Linked DNA regions of Homo sapiens: region 1 is linked to region 2. Evidence: fine-mapped QTL for protein levels in blood plasma. Region 2 holds a variant in brackets. A gene starts in the other region. All regions are shown on their reverse strands.

Region 1 (8,330 bases), not on the chromosome of region 2:
TAAGATAAAGAAGAAAGAAAGAAATGTTACTATTTATTTATTTATTTCAGACAGGGTCTCAGCTTTGTTGCCGAGGCTGGAGTGCAGTGGCACGGCAACCTCGAACTCCTGGGCTCAAACAATCCTCCTGCCTAAGCCTCAAGAGTAGCTGGGACTACAGGCTTATGCCACCATGCCCAGCTAATTTTTGAAATTTTTGAATTTTTTGTAGAGACAGGGGTCTCACTATGTTGCCGAGGCTGGTCTCCAACTCCCTGCCTCAAGTGATCCCCCTGCCTCAAGTGATCCCCCTGCCTCGGCCTCCCAAAGTGCTGGGAATGAAACATTACTATTTAGATGGAGGAGGGCCAACAGTGATGACTTCGTAGAGTGGCTCAGTGATCCCTAGGCTGTAACTATCTATCTTAGGTATTTTTCAGTTCTACAAGAGCTTTGTACCTGATTCTAATGCACAGCTCCTGGTAAGCTGGGGGACCCTGGGTATAGTGCTGGGTCTGTTCCTTATCTTGAATTTGCTCCCTTTGAAGATTCTTTTGAGTTTTTATATAGTCCCTCATACTGTTCCAAGCCTGTACCTCACTGAGAACCTGCTTATGGAATTGTTTCCTGATGTGATATGAGAAGCTGCTTATTTTGTTGTATGTATTAAGGCAGAGAATCTAGGAGTGTGAGCTGGAAGGGGAGACCATTGGAAGTGTATTTGTGTGAGTGTGTGTATAACAGGACCCTCCTAAGTTGAAGAGTTAGCTAATTGGTAAGAACAAGGCTTCTGGCAAGCCGTGGAAACTTCATTTTTAGGCCACTGAAGTAACGTGCCCAAGTTAGCATCTTATGTCCATCTCCTCTGCCTTCAAGGTGGCATGATGCTTGGTTTCTGGAGCCTTGCAAAACATACAGTGAGCCTGGTTCTTGGCACCGACAGGATGCATCATCTCTCCTTCCACATCTCTTAATGAAGTGTGCAGCTCTTGGCCTCATTAGGCCCCAGCATTGTCAATAAAAGAGTCAATAAACCCGGTTGATGGGGTTGGGACCGAGAGGCTGAGAGGCAGTGGCTGCACATCCATAGGGCAGACGTCAGCTCCGCCACATGTCATGACCCAGCATTCAGGGATCAATAACCAGCTCAGAATAAAGCCTCAGAGCCTGCCCTCTGCAGTTTCCTCTCCAGACCCATTTCAGCCAGGGCAGAGCGGTGCCAGCCAGCTCCTGCTTTGCTTGCAGTTGTGTTCCCACTGCATGCCATTCTGGGTGCCAGATGCTTTTGTTTCTTCCTGATTGGTCCCTCTGGACATCCCATAGATGCCTATTTAGCGAGTGCCCACCTGGCATGAGAACATGTAGACAGCATTCCCAAGAAGCTCAGAGGCCAATATGGGCCCTATTTTCTGTGTCTTCTGTCTGCTGACAGTGCGTGAAGGGTCCCGGTGGACAAGGCGGTGTGTTTTCTGCATGTTGTGCTGCTGGACTCCATTCCTGGCTGTTCTACATCTCTTTAGATCCCCTTATCTTATCTAATTACAAGGAATTCCAGATTAATTTCATGGCCTCTGCTCCAAAGGACCTCTTATCTGTGAGGGCCTTGTATTTTAACCTTGTCATTCTTTTGTTGTTTGTCTTTAAGGGGCAGGCAGCTAAGAAGAGGATGCTAAGATCTTGCTGGAATTGGGTCTGGGGGGGACGGGAAGAAAAGGGAGGCAGACAGACCTGAGATTTGTGTATTCTGTTCTGTCCTCCTGCCTGTGTGCAGAGACAGCTGGCTGCTTTCTTCCATGACAGCCACATAGTACCCAGCCACACAGAACAGGACCCAGGCAGGGACTCAGCTACTGCCAACCTCTCCAGATTGCTTTGATATTTCTGACAGAACAGTAAAGGACTCGTGACTATCACGTTTTGCCTTGCCTCTCTTCACCTCCTCTAAGACTCCTCCATGTGGTTTCCATGGCTACCCCCAATCAGATTTGGCTTCCTGCGAAATTGGATTTCAAAAAAGGACAAGGCTTCAAAGGAATTTGTCCATTTAACAGAATGTCATTAGGAGTGGGGCTGACTGCTGAAACAGGGTCCTCAGATGATTAAGGAAGGGCTGCGTTCATGTGTGGAGGCAGATTTCTGTCTGCAATGAGGAACCTTGATGCAACATGACAATACCGTATTGGAATCTGCCAGTCACTCACTACATACTACCCGACTGTGCACCTCCCTCTACCCCTGTCTCTCTAAAACCCAGAGATTCTTGTAAGGAAGGATGCATATAGAATACGTACACTGTGAGTTTTTGGTGTAAGTAAGCTATGACAGGCAGTGAAGCCTGCAAAGAAGTGCAATTACCTGGGTTTACTGCTCTTTATCAAACAATTCATTAGCTGGTAGCTTATATTAGTATGTGACACCATATCCTTGAAGAAGAGGGGGAGGTTATCAAATTTTCTTCTGTTGCCAAGAAGGAAAGCAAGGCAAAGTTTAGGTTGACATATGGGGAGACTTTGCTGCCCTTGCTGTATTTTTTGTGTAACAGTTTAGATTTACCAAAAAAAAATTGAGATGATAGCACAGACAGTTCCCATGTATCTTTCCTTGCTTTTTAGTATGCCTCATAAGTACTTCAAAATGATTCTAGAGCAGCTACAATTTTATAGGTGAAGTGGTGAAGTTGGTAAAAATGCCATGGGGGTACCTGGTACTTGATCCCAAGCCTGAAAGGGGTAGTCTGCCCATTGCTATACTTTCTTTCTTTCTTTCTTTCTTTTTTTTGAGATGGAGTCTTGCCCTGTCACCCAGGCTAGAGTGCAATGGCCTGATCTCGGCTCACTGCAACCTCCGCCCCCCGGGTTCATGTGATTCTCCTGCCTCAGCCACCCGAGTAGCTGGGATTACAGGCGTGCACCACCATGCCCAGCTAATTTTTGTATTATTAGTAGAGACGGGGTTTCACTATATTGGTCAGGCTGACCTCAAACTCCTGACCTCGTGATCCGCCTGCCTTGGCCTCCCAAAGTGCTGGGATTATAGGCGTGAGCCACTGTGCCCAGCCACCCATTACTATACTTTCTCAGGGCAGGAAGGAGGATGAGCAGGAGCCAGATACCCCAGAGAGGCTCATGCCAGCCTCTGTCCCCTCACCCCAATTTACTGCAGCTTGTAGGTGGGTCATGTGACACTGAAACCAATGCACCACTGCTTTTCAGATGGCAGGATGCACTGTACTCCTTAAAGGATCACACCCTCATCTTTGAGGCTGTATCTCTGGATGGGAAACAGTACAAGGAGGCAGGCACTTTTATCACACTCATCCTTCTCGATGGTTTCTTCTTACTGCTCTTGCCCCGTCTGCTAGATTGAGTCCATCATTATTCCCCTTATGGCTGTTGTAAAAACCATTTTACCCACTTCCCCCTGTGTCTTTTCCCACCACTCCTAATCTTTTCTACATATTCTGTAGGTTGAGTCTGAGAATAGAAATGCCATTTTTTACAAAGAAGGAAAAAGGCAGAGGTGGAGATGTGTGAGGCCACATACCACCCCGGAGCTCTGGTTAGGTCATTCCCAATCTCAAAAATTGTCAATGGCTCCCCAGTGCCCTCTCAATTAAGTTCAACATTCCTATTCTGACTTTCAAGTCCCTTCACAGTAGAGCTGCAGTTTATCTTGACAACCATAGTCTTTCTACAACATCCAGTAAAAGAGGGCTACTAACTATTCCTCAAGCTGGTGAGGGCTCTTCCATCTTTCTTTACTCTGGTCCTTCCACCTGGAAAGTCCTCTGCCCCTTCAAAGTCTGGTGTGTTTTTCAGAGCCCATCTCAAACACCACATGCACCTTTAAACACTCACATGCACACTGGCACTTCTTTTTATTTTCTTTCTTTTTTAAGAGACAGGGTCTTGCTCTGTTGCCCAGGCTGGGGTACACTGGGGTGATCATAGTTGGCTGTAACCTCAGATTCCTGGGCTCAAGTGATCCTCCTGCTTCAGCCTCCCAAAGTGCTGTGATTACAGGTGTGAGCCACAATGCCTGGCCTCTTCCCTCCTTTTCTGGTATTCAGCTCCCTTCTTTTATCAACCATAGCACTTTATACTTTTTTCATGGCAGTTGACCTATTGTACTTAAAAAACCTCTTTATTTTGAGAATTATAGATTCACAGAGAGTTTCAGAAATAATAGAGGAACTCTGTCTACCTTTACCCAGTTTCCCCCAAGGGTAACATCTGGCACTATTACAGTACCATGTCACAACCAGGACACTGACACCAACTGTCCCTTGAATGAGACCGTGTGATTTTGTCCTTCACTTTCCTCCCTTCCGCAGCTCCTGGAGGGAAAGGGCTCTGTTCTCCTCTCCCTCAGCTTTCTCCCTGTGTTACCCCTTCCTTTCCTCAGGGCCTTTCCATCCTGAGGGAGAACAGCACAGTTTGGTTTCCTGTGTCCCTTGCTGCCACGCTGCCGCGATTCTCCCAAATGTTGGTGTCCTTATATTGCTTATTGGGAATTAATCATTTCCTTTCAACATTGTGGCTTCCCAAAGAGCGAAGTTTTGCCCTCTTTTCTGGGGATGGAGATGTGAACTGGACCGGCAATTGAGGGGTGCTATGCTTGACGGGGATCTCTTCCTTGGATTCTGCCTCCCTGCACCCTACTTCAGGCACCCCGTGGTCTTTCAAATCTGCCACCGTGAGGTCAACTGTTCGGTGCTTAGGATGGAGTGTCCAAAGCCGTGGGTCCTTTGAGCCTTGTGAAGTCTTTTGTTTTGGTGGGTGCTGGAGGGGCGCACCTTTGGCCTCGCACGGTGCGGTGCTTCCGGCACCCCCAATCCTTCTACCGTGGGGCTCCGGCGTGAGCGCCACGTGCACCCACGCCCCGCGCCCCGTTCCGGTCCCCGCCTGCCGCCCGCGCCACTTCCTGACGCGCCCGGGGACCCACGGCCCCGCCCCGCGGCCGGGCTGGGCGGGCGGCGACCGCGGCTGAGGTACAGGTGCCTCGCGGTGCAGCCGGGTCGCCTTCCAGCCCGTCCGCCTCCCGACCAGGGCCCGCGCCCCGTCCCGCCTCTCTCCCGCCCAGCCAAATGCAGGCCGCCGCCCTCCCTGAGGAGATCCGTTGGCTCCTGGAAGGTAACGCCCTGGCGCAGGCCCCCTCCAGTGCTGAGCCGAAGGCCGAAAGGGGACACCAGGCCTCCCACGGCCAGGCTTTCTTTACGGCTTCGTCACTCACCTCCTTCTAGAACCTTAAGGCTTCTAGAGCCCTCAACTCCCTAGAGCCAGCTTTCCATCCTCTCACCTCAGGGCCCCTTTCACTCCCTGGAGTCCCACATCTTCTTTTGCCTTGAGGCACCTCCACGCCTCCACTTCACCTCCCCGGCTTCTAAAGTCCTCAGGCCAGGTTCTTGGTCCCCCATGCCACCTTGCCTGGTCTCCGACCTGTCCCTTTCTCCAAAGGACTGCCCTACATCTGTAGGGTTTCCCGTCCCCCTCCTTCCCCAGCCACGACTTCCTCACCTCTCACAGAAGACCCCAAACCTTCCTGCTTAGAGGTCCCCGAGGCTCTCCAGGGGGCTGCGAGGGGCTCATGGGATCCCCATGGGCCAAGGCCAGGTGGTTGACGTGAGTTTTTGTCAGTGCGAAAACCCCAGCCCTCCCTTTATCACCCTGCAGACGTCTAGGGGTCTCACCCACCCCAAGGCAGGCTCATTCTCAGTATGGGATTTCCTCCTTTTCTAGAAGTGCCCCCATTGTGGTGTGTTCACCTTCCAACTCCCATTGTGGTGTGTTCACCTTCCAACTACAGTGTCTAAGCGGTGGTTTAAAGAGTTCCGGCCATCCCCGTCAACACTCAACACACACTGCCAACACTCCAAAGAGATGTCACAAAGAGACGTTGCTAACGGGCAGTTTCATCTGCTGGGTTTCGTGGTGGAAGTCACTTTTACTTGCTTTCCTGTAACTAACCTTCCAGGGAGGACAGAGGCCTGGAATCTGCAGTCGCATAAGGCTCCCAGGAGGAAACTATTCAGAATTAAGCCTTTTGGCATCTAAGTTGACATAGTTGACACATATTTAACAGACGGCCTGCTTTGGGCAGGTCATATTTTTGGCAAGCAGTATTTTTTTTCAGTTTCTCTCAATTTAATTGGTTTTATATCTCCATTACCTTGTTATCTCGGTATAAATGCCTCCTAATCAAATATTTGGCAAGTCCTTTTGGTCTCTGTCTGTAGCACTATTTCCATTCTGGATTGCTTCTATGTAAAAGCTGTCAGCTAGATATTTCTTTTGAGGTGAGGTTTCCAAAATCCGTTTTACTTACGATCAGAATAAATCTAAATTTTGGGGGTAGAAAACTATTTGCAGGGTAAAAGAGAATTATCTGGGTGTCTAAGAAGAAACAATCCAGCCTTTCCCTCTGTTGTTGGTTTAATATTAGGCTTGTGAAGGAAGGCTGTAATTGTCTTTGGTTTCTAGGAAAGAAGGGACTGTGGCAAAAAGTTTAACTCTGCCCTTGCATTGAAATATATAAACTGATTCTTTTTATTGGTATCTGTCATTTGATGAGAGGAAACCTATTTTATAAGCTTATTAAACTATACTTCAGTTTTGTGTCTAGGCTTGGTAGAAAATTCCTTTTTATTTTCAGAGGCTTGCAATGAAATCCATTCCTTCAGCATTTTTGATGTGCAGTTCTTCATTGTTCAAAACTGACACTTTGGTAAACAACTCATTTCTGCACCTGCCACCTTCCTTTAGCTTAGATTATTTTCTTGTTAGCTGACTGTTTTTAATTGAAGTCTTCAGATCTCCTTCTAAAGCAGAACCTTTGTTTGCTGACAAGTAGAGCGGGGTATGAATGGAGATTAATTGCATGTCGCATACTTCTGTATCAAGCTTGCTGTATCTTAACAATCTCTGTTGGTGCTCAGGTCTTTAAAATATATGGAGGAGTCTGAAACCAAATTATAAGGAGCTTCGTTGGTTAATGTATTTCTTTAAGGCTTTTTTTTTTAAGTTTGCAATTAGAACTTGAATCTGAAGTAGAGAAAAAAATGTAAAGTGTGATTCATCCAGTAATTCTATTGAAAAATGTTTGAAGATATGTTTTTTAAAGGTTCCTGTAATAATAATAGCAATATATTGGTTACAAGTTTTATTTCTTTTGGAACACAGTCGCTGGTGTAGACCAGGAGGATTATTCATTGTGTTACAAATAATCTGTCCATATTAGAAACCCAAAATGGCCATCAATTTGTTGTTTGTTGCTATTTGTCTCCCCCACCACACACTTTTTAAGGTTAACTGTTGACAATTAGAAAAAATGGAGGTCCTGATCTCTATATAGTCACTCTGTGGGAGGGAGTCACAGGATGTGAGGGCTGCAACTCTAGTGCTGCCACATGGCTGTGGGGGTGGGGTTTCCACAATGAATTACTACTTTCATAAACCAAGGCATAAGCATTTGCACAGTGATTTAACACTGGACATCACAGCCATAACTTAAGCATTTATTTATTTATAACTACACAAGCATAAATGACAGGGGCATTTTTTGACATAATGTGTGTGCTTTTAAGAATAAAATATGTAAAGCATTGTGAAAGGTAGATAACAAAATTTTGCATAATGAAGAGAACAGAAATTCCCAAGGCCTAAAATTAATTTTGTTTAAATATAAAATTTGAGACACTTGGAAATGTTTCACTCGACCTAGAAACCTCACTTCTAAAAATCTGTCACTGAAGTGAAAGGTCATGAAGTAGTATATGCACGAAGATCTATGCTAAATGTTAATAAGTTGGGAGACTCAGGGTGATGGTTGAATGAATTATGGGACATTTGTCTCATGGAATACTTCACAGCCACTAAAAGAGTATTCTGTGGATCTATATATAGGCTTGGAAAGTGTCCATGGCATATTTTTAAGACTAAAAGGCAAAATGCATGATAGTACATGTAATATCCCATTTTTGCTTGAAAACCAAAAGACAAAACAAGAAAAGCCACATATGTTATAAATATTTGTGTAAGCCTAGGAATAAGTAAAAAAGAATATATACCAGACTGTTAACATTGGCTTCCTTGAGAGAAGACTGAGAGTTTGGAGGAGGGGAGGTTATTAATTTTTATTTCATACATCTTTGTGTTGTTTGAATTGTGACAATGACCATGCATTACTTCTGTAAACAGGAAAAAATAAACAGTAAGGGTATTTAAAAGAAAAAGGAACAAAAGACAAATAGAAACTCAGAGAGGTCAGAGTGCTAACGGACCATTTACTATGCTTGTGATCATGTTTTTCTCTTTTTAGCCCTGAGGGGTATGGAAGGTGGAGAAATTAAAAAA
Region 2 (8,330 bases):
GAAGCTGAGCCCTCTTGAATGAATCTGTGGTAATTTGTTATGTCAGTTTTAGAAAAATAATACACAATCTAATCATTTCTCTAATCCTCTGTTATTGTTATATTATTATTATTTTTTTTGAGATGGAGTCTCACTCTGTCACCCAGGCTGGAGTGCAGTAGCATGATCTCAGCTCACTGCAACCTCTGCCGCCTGGGTTCAAGAGATTCTCCTGCCTCAGGCTCCCGAGTAGCTGGGACTACAGGTGCCTGCCACCACCATGCCCAGCTAATTTTTTGTATTTTTAGTAGAGATGTGTTTTCACCGTGTTAGCCAGGATGGTCTCGATCTCCTGAACTCGTGATCTGCCCGCCTCGGCCTCCCAGAGTGCTTGGATTACAGGCATGAGCCACTGCACTTGGCTATTGTTGATTTTTTTAAAATATTAAACCTTTCCTTGTTCAAATTACCATGTGGTTTCTCTGTCTTGATTTGACCCAGACTTAATCATCACCAACAAATGTAGGTACTAGTGTTTCAGCATTAAATAAAATGGAATATCTGAATTTTGAAAGTCCCCACTTGCAATTACTGTGCAGATATTTTAGAGGATGGGCCATTTGCAGGAGAGGTGTAAAGTCTGCATTGCAGACATAATCCTTAAAGTCGTTTTGAATGCTGCTGTCACACCTGAAAAAAAAAAAAAAAAGAAAATGAGCACTGATGGTGCCTCTGAGGACAGATGGCTCAGATGAAGTGGAGGAAGCTGGGCTGGGCAGCTGCCAGCTTGTCTAAAGGTGATTCCTGGCATCCTATACTTTCATGTGGAGGCCAGATCTAGGCAACATTCAGAAAGCGAGTCCAGCCGGGGATGGTGGCCTGCAACTGGAGTCCCAGCTACTCCAGAGGCTGAGGCAGGAGGATCACTTGAGCCCGGTAGGTCAAGGCTGCAATGAGCTGTTTATGGAGCCACTGAACTCCAGCCTGGGCAACAGAGTGAGACCCTGTCTCTAAAAAAAAAAAAAAAAATTTCCAGATAGAGGTGTCTGGAGATCAATACTCATGGCTAGAGTGGCAATGCTGAGGCATTGAGGTCTAAGAGACAGAAAACAGATTCACACCACTGTGACCTTTGCTCTAGAGAAAGAGGAAGGCCTAAACATGGGACAGTCAAGGTTTTTGTGGGGGCAGGAGGGCTCTAAATATGGGCTGAGGTGTCTATTTATTTGTTCAGTACATTTGTTGAACTCCAGCAATGAGCCAGACACAAAAACACTATGGTGGACAAGACAGTGAGCGTCCTTGTCTTCAGAGACAATGAAATAGACCAACACGATGAGATAAATGCTCAACTCAACTTATGTACAGGTTCCCAAAAGGGCACATTGCAGAGCTACAGGAGAATGCTTCCCAGAGAAGGTGATGAACAATGTGACTTTAAGGAAAGGGAGTTGGGAAGGAAGACTGTGCATCAGTCATCACTGCAAGTGCAGAGATCCAGGGGCAGAAATTGAGGAGAATGTAGATAATTTGGTTGTCAGCCCATCAGAGCTAACACATGCCTTTTTTTTCTTGAGACAGAGTCTGGCTTGGTCACCCAGGCTGGGTGCATTGGCGTGATCATAGCTCACTGTAGCCTTGACCTCCCAGGCTCAAGTGATCCTGCCACCTCAGCCTCCCAAGTAGCTAACACTACAGGCACATGCCACCACACCCGGGTAATTAAGAAACAATTTTTGGGCTGGGTGCGGTGGCTTATGCCTGTAATGCCAACACTTTGGGAGGCTGAGGTGGGCAGATCATTTGAGGTCAGGAGTTCAAGACCAGCCTGGCCAACATGGCAAAACCCCGTCTCTAACAAAAATACAAAAAATTAGCCCAGTGTGGTGGCTCGAGCCTGTAATCCTAGCTACTTGGGAGGCTGAGGCAGGAGAATGCTTGAACCCGGGAGGTGGAGGTTGCAGTGAGCTGAGATCATGCCACTGCACTCCAGCCTGCCCGAAAGAGCAAGACTCTGCCTTAAAAAAAAAAAGAAAAAAAAGAAAAATTTTTATAGAGATAAGGGTGGTCTCGCTATGTTGCCCAGGCTAGTCTTGAACTCCTGGGCTCAAGTGATCCTCCTGCCTCAGCCTCCCAAAGCTCTGGGATTACAGGTGTGAGCCACTGGGCCTGGCCACACGTCTTAAAAAAAAAAAAAGTTTTTTTTGTTTGTTTGTTTTGTTTTTTCTTTTTTGAGACAGAGTCTCGCTCTGTCACCAGGCTGGAGTGCAGTGGCACAATCTCGGGTCACTGCAACCTCCGCCTCCTGGATTCAAGCAATTCCCCTGCCTCAGCCTCCGGAGTAGCTGGGACTATAGGCACGTGCCACCATGCCCAGCTAATTTTTTGTATTTTAGTAGAGACGGGGTTTCACCATGTTGGCCAGGCTGGTCTCAATCTCCTGACCTCGTGATCTGCCCACCTCGGCCTCCCAAACTGCTGGGATTACAGGCATGAGCCACTGTGCCCGGCCAAAAAAAAAAAAAAAAGTTTTGAACACTCCTTTTACTCTGATGAAATTAATGAATAGATAAATAAAACATCTATAATACTACTTTTAAAAGTCAATATAGGCTGGACACATTGGCTCATGCCTGTAATCCCAGCACTTTGGAAGGCCAAGGCAAGCAGATCACCTGAAGTTGGGAGTTTGAGACCAGCCTGGCCAACATGGCAAAACTGCGTCTCTACTAAAAATACAAAAAATTAGCTGGGCATGGTGGTGTGCACCTGTAATCCCAGCTACTCAGGAGGCTAAGGTGTGAGAATTGCTTGAACTGGGGAGGCAGAGGTTGCAGTGGGCCAAGATCGTGCTGCTGCAGTCCAGCCTAGACTCTGTCTCAAAAATAAATAAATAAATAAATAAATAAATAAATAAATAAATAAATAAATATTACAGGCTGGGCGCGGTGGCTCACGCCTGTAATCCCAGCACTTTGGGAGGCCGAGATGGGTGGATCACCTGAGGTTGGGAGTTTGAGACCAGCCTGACCAACATGGAGAAACCCCGTCTCTACTAAAAGTACAAAATTAGCTGGATGTTGTGGCACATGCTTGTAATCCCAGCTACTCGGGAGGCTGAGGCAGGAGAATCACTTGAACCCGGAAGGCGGAAGCTGCAGTGAGCCGAGATCGCACCATTGCACTCCAGCCTGAGCAATAAGACCGGAACGCCATCTCAAAAAATAAAAAAATAAATAAATAAAAATAAAATAAAAAATAAATGTTACAACTACACGGTGGGCATGGTGGCTCACAACTGTAACCCCAGCTACTTGGGAGGCTGTGATGGGAGGATTGTTTGAAGCCAGGAGTTCAAGACTCCCATCTCTAACAGAAAATAAAGAAAAATAAATTGAACTAGTGGTTACTCTTGTGGTAGGGTAGTAACTAGGAGGGACATGAGCCTTTAGGATGCTACAGATGTTTTGTTTTGCTTTGTAGAGACAGGGTCTCTGCTGGAGAGAAGTAGAGTAAAGAAAAAAAAAAGGAGGGAGGGTCTTGCTCAGTTGCCCAGGCTTGAGTGCAGTGTTGCGATCATGGCTCACTGCAACCTTGAACTCCTGAGCTCAAGCAATCCTCCCACCTCAGCCTCCTAAGTAGCTGGGACTACAGGTGTGAACCCCCATGCCCAGCTAAATATATATGTATATATTTTTTGTTTTGTTTTGTTTTTGTAGAGAGGGGGTCTCACTCTGTTGTCCAGGCTCCTCTTGAACTCCTGGCCTCACCCATTCCTCCCCAGCCTCAGCTCCCAAAGGGCTGGGACTGTAGTCATGAGCCACCACACCCAGCCAATGTTTTGGTTTCTTGATATGGGTACTGGTTTCTTGATATGGGTGTGTTTACTTTGTGACAATGCATTGAGCCTACACTTAGGGTTTGTGCACTTTTCTGTATTACATTATTCTTTAAAAAATTTTTTAAATACGCTGGGAGCAGTGGCTCACGCCTGTAATCCCAGCATTTTGGGAGGCTGAGGCAGGCAGACTGCTTGAGTTCAGGAGTTTGAGACCAGCCTGGGCAATATGGCATAACCCTGTCTCTAAAAAAAAAAAAAAA[T/AT]TAGCCAGGAATGGTGGTGTGAGCCTGTAGTCCCAGCAACTCCGGAGGCTGAGGTGGGAGGATGGCTTAAGCCCAGGAGGCAGAGGTTGCAGTGAGCTGAGATGCCACGACTGCAATCCAGCCTGGGCAACAGAGCCAGAACCTGTCTCTCTCTCTCTCTCTCTCTCTCTCTCTATATATATATATTTTGGCTGGGCGCAGTGGTTCATGCCTGTAATCCCAGCACTTTGGGAGGCCGAGGCAGGTGGATCACGAGGTCAGGAGTTCAAGACCAGCCTGGCCAATATGGTGAAACACCATCTCTACTAAAAATACAAAAATTAGCTGGGCATAGTGGTGCATGCCTGTAGTCCCAGCTACTCAGGAGGCTGAGGGAGGAGAATCTCTTGAACCTAGAAGCGGAGGTTGCAGTGAGCTGAGATTGCACCACTGCACTCCAGCCTAGGCAACAGAGCAAGACTACATCTCAAAAAAATAAAAATTTAAGTAATGTATATGTCAGTATGTAATGCTTGGGTAGGGCTTTGCTAGGAGATTTGGTGAAGTTGTCATATTGAAGTTGTCATATGCTTGTACCCCCCATTTTTTCCCCACTACCTTTTTCTTCCAATTAAGCTGAGCTTCCCTGAGTCCTGAATAATCCTTTCACCTCCCAATCCCTGCAGATCCCGCCTCAGATGCTGAACCTTGTGCTCTAATTCCGTGGCCTGAAAGCAGTGGCTCTCCTCAGGGGCAGTGCCACCCCTTAGGGGTTGTTTTGTGAATTTTTAGGAGGGGGTGTTTTGGTCGCAGTGAGTGATGGAGGACCTCTGGCATTAATGGGTTAACCCATGGGGATCAGTTGTGTCCTACACAGTGCCAGACAGTCTCACTTAGTGAAAAACTGTCCCTCCTCCACCATCATTTGCAGAATGCCCCATGGCCATCCATGTACATGAGAACAGGTTAATAACTGAGTAGAGAATCTAAATTCATTTTTTATATAAACACGAACATATACGCATGGTTTTAATCCTGACTTTTCATGATTACAGGTGCACACCAGCATGCTCAGCTAATTTTTGTATTTTTAGTAGAGACAGGTTTCATCATGTTGGCCAGGCTGGTCTTGAACTCCTGACCTCAAGTGATCCACCTGCCTCACCTCCCAAAGTGCTGGGATTATAGGCATGACCACCACGTCCAGCCCTAATTTTTATTTTAAGAGACAGGGTCTTGCTCTGTTGCTCAGGCTGGAGTGCAACGGTGCAGGCATGGCTCACTGCAGCCTCTAGCCACTGGGCTCAAGCGATCCTCCCGCCTAAGCCTCCTGAGTAGTTGGGACTACAGGCACGCACTGCCACGCTCAGCTAAGTTTTTATGTTTTAATTTTTTGTAGAGACAGGGTCTTGTTTTGTTACCCAGGTTATCTTGATCTCTTGGACCCCAGCAGTCCTACCACTTCGGCCTCCCAAAGTGCTGGTATTATAGGCATGAGCACCTGACTCTGTTTTCTTGTTTTATTTATTTATTTTTTTTGAGACAGGGTGTCACTCTTTTGCCTAGGCTGGAGTGCAGGGGCACAATCTCACCTCATTGCAACCTCTGCCTCCCAGGCTCAAGGGATCCTCCCACCTCCACCTCCCAAGTAACCGGGACTACAGGCGCACACCACCATGCTAGGACAATTTTTTATTTTTTGAGAAGGAGTCTTGCTCTGTTGCCCAGGCTGGAGTGCAGTGGTGCAATCTTGGCTCACTGCAACCTCTGTTTCCTGGGTTCAACCAATTCTCCTGCCTCAGCCTCCCGAGTAGCTGGGATTACAGGCACCTGCCACCACACCCTGATAATTTTTGCTTTTCTTTTTTTTTGAGATGGAATCTCACTCTGTTGCCCAGGCTGGAGTGCAGTGGCATGATCTTGGCTCATTGCAACCTCTGCCTCCCAGGTTCAAACAATTCTCTGCCTCAGCCTCCCAAGTACTGGGATTACAGGTGGCTGCCACCACACCCAGCTAATTTTTGTATTTTTAGTAGAGACGGGGTTTCACCATATTGGTCAGGCTGGTCTTCAACTCCTGACCTCGTGATCCACCCGCCTCGGCCTCCCAAAGTGCTGGGATTACAGGCATAAGCCACCGCATCCGGCTGCTAGGACAATTTTTTATTTATTTATTTTTGTTGTTGTTGAAACAGAGTCTTGCTCTGTCGCCCAGGCTAGAGTGCAGTGGTGTGATCTCGGCTCACTGCACCCTCTGCCTCCTGGGTTCCAGCAATTCTCCTGCCTCAGCCTCCTAGGTAGCTGGGATTACAGGCGCCTGCCACCACATCTGGCTAATTTTTGTATTATTTTATTTCATTTTATTTTGTAGAGGCGGGGTTTCGCCATGTTGGCCAGGCTGCTCTCAAACTCCTGTCCTCAGGTGATCCTCCCGCCTCAGCCTCCCAAAGTGCTGGGATTACCAGCGTGAGCCACTGCGCCGGTCCGTTGTTGTTGTTGTTGTTGTTGTTGTTGTTGAGACAGAGTTTTGCTCTTGTCATCCAGGCTGGAGTGCAATAGTGCCATCTCAACTCACTGCAACCTCCGCCTCCCAGGTTCAAGTGATTCTCCTGCCTCAGCCTCCCCAGTAGCTGGGATTACAGGTGCCCACCACCATGCCCGGCTAATTTTTGTATTTTTAGTAGAGATGGGGTTTCACCATGTTGGCCAGGCTGGTCTCGAACTCCTGACCTCAGATGATCTGCCTTCCTGGGCCTCTCAAAGTGCTGGGATTACAGGCGTGAGCCACTGTGCCTGGCCTCAGAATGAACATTTTTAAATAAAATAACTGATTTATCCTAATCTACCAGTACATAATGGACTCTCAGGACTGGCAGGGAAAAGCATGGAAAGGAAGGACTCAGATAACACCCATGTTTTGGGACATTAGGTCTAATATTGCTAGTAACAGGAGGGAAGTCTAATTGAGTAGTCAGTGAAAGTTTCTAGGAAAAATAAACTCATAACCCAATAATCATGTGAAAATATTTAGCAGCCATTTAGATGTGTTGGCCTAGAAGGGGGTTACTCAACCTCAGAGCAATTAATATTTTGGACCAGATAATTCCTGTGAAGAGCTGTCCTGTGCATTGTAGGATGTAGTATTAATAGCAGCATCCCTAGCCTCTACCCACTAGATGTCAGTAGCACCTACGTCTCCTCCCTGTCTTTCTGCCCATTTGTGACAAACAAAAATGTCTCCAGACATTGCCAAATGCCCTCTAGGAGCAGTCACCCCCAGTTGGGAATCACTGGCCTACAGTATATTGAAACCAAGGCAAAGAGGGTGGAGGCTTGAACCTTGGGGAAATATATTTTATTTATTTATTATTATTATTATTATTATTATTTTTTGAGATGGAGTCTTGCTCTGTCGCCCAGGCTAGAGTGCAGTGGCACGATCTCGGCTCACTGCAAGCTCCGCCTCCCAGGTTCATGCCATTCTCCTGCCTCAGCCTCCTGAGCAGCTGGGACTACAGGCACCCGCCACCACACCCAGCTAATTTTTTGTATTTTTAATAGAGACGGGGTTTCACCGTGTTAGTCAGGATGGTCTTGATCTCCTGACCTTGTGATCTGCCCGCCTCGGCCTCCCAAAGTGCTGGGATTACAGGCTTGAGCCACCGCGCCCGGCCTTACTATTATGTTTTTTTGCGATGGAGTTTCACTCTTGTTGCCCAGGCTGGAGTGCAATGGTGCGATCTTGGCTCACTGCAAGCTCTACCTCCTGGGTTCAAGTGATTCTCCTGCCTCAGCCTCCTGAGTAGCTGGGATTACAGGCGGATGCCACCACGCCCGGCTAATTTTTTTTTTTTTTTTTTAGAGTTTCGCTGTTGTCCAGGCTGGAGTGCAATGGCACGATCTCAGCTCACTGCAACTTCCGCCTTCCCAGTTTAAGCGATTCTCCTGCCTCAGCCTCCTGAGTAGCTGGGATTACAGGCACCTGCCACCACGCCCAGCTAATTTTTTGTATTTAGTAGAGAAGGGGTTTCACCATTTTGGCTAGGCTGGTCTCCAACTCCTGACCTCAGGTGATCTACCCACCTTAGCCTCCCAAAGCGCTGGATTATGGACATGAGCCAATGCGCCTGGGCAGAAATGTGGTTTTTTTTTTTTTTTTTTTGAGACTGAGTCTCACTCTATCACCCAGGCTGGAGTGCAGTGGTGCGATCTCAGCTTGCTGCAACCTCTGTCTCCTGGGTTCAAGCTATTCTCGTGCCTCAGCCGCCTGA

Direction of the effects. Alleles are on the strand shown, and positions count from the first base shown. The strength of an association depends on the size of the effect and on how common the allele is.
With allele AT in place of T in region 2, the plasma level of the protein whose gene starts at base 4,972 in region 1 is lower (weak association).

Evidence for each region. A credible set is the group of variants that fine-mapping cannot tell apart. PIP is the posterior inclusion probability: the model's chance that the variant is causal. Protein levels are from antibody-based Olink assays in UK Biobank. Linkage for the fine-mapping came from a reference panel and not from the study's own genotypes, which makes the PIPs less certain.
Region 1: SKAP1 starts here. The variant in region 2 is the best candidate, but not a certain one, in a credible set for the plasma level of the SKAP1 protein (UK Biobank, PIP 0.87).

What each region holds. Positions count from the first base shown.
Region 1 is chr17:48,426,856-48,435,185 of GRCh38, reverse strand. SKAP1 (src kinase associated phosphoprotein 1) reads left to right here and starts at 4,972. Exons shown (of 13, transcript NM_003726.4): 1 at 4,972-5,111. The coding sequence starts at 5,066. RefSeq lists a silencer at 4,799-5,058.
Region 2 is chr16:30,637,054-30,645,383 of GRCh38, reverse strand. No RefSeq gene overlaps it. Among named protein-coding and RNA genes, the nearest start is that of PRR14, 9.7 kb to the left of the region's middle. The variant T/AT (reference allele first, on the strand shown) is at 4,081.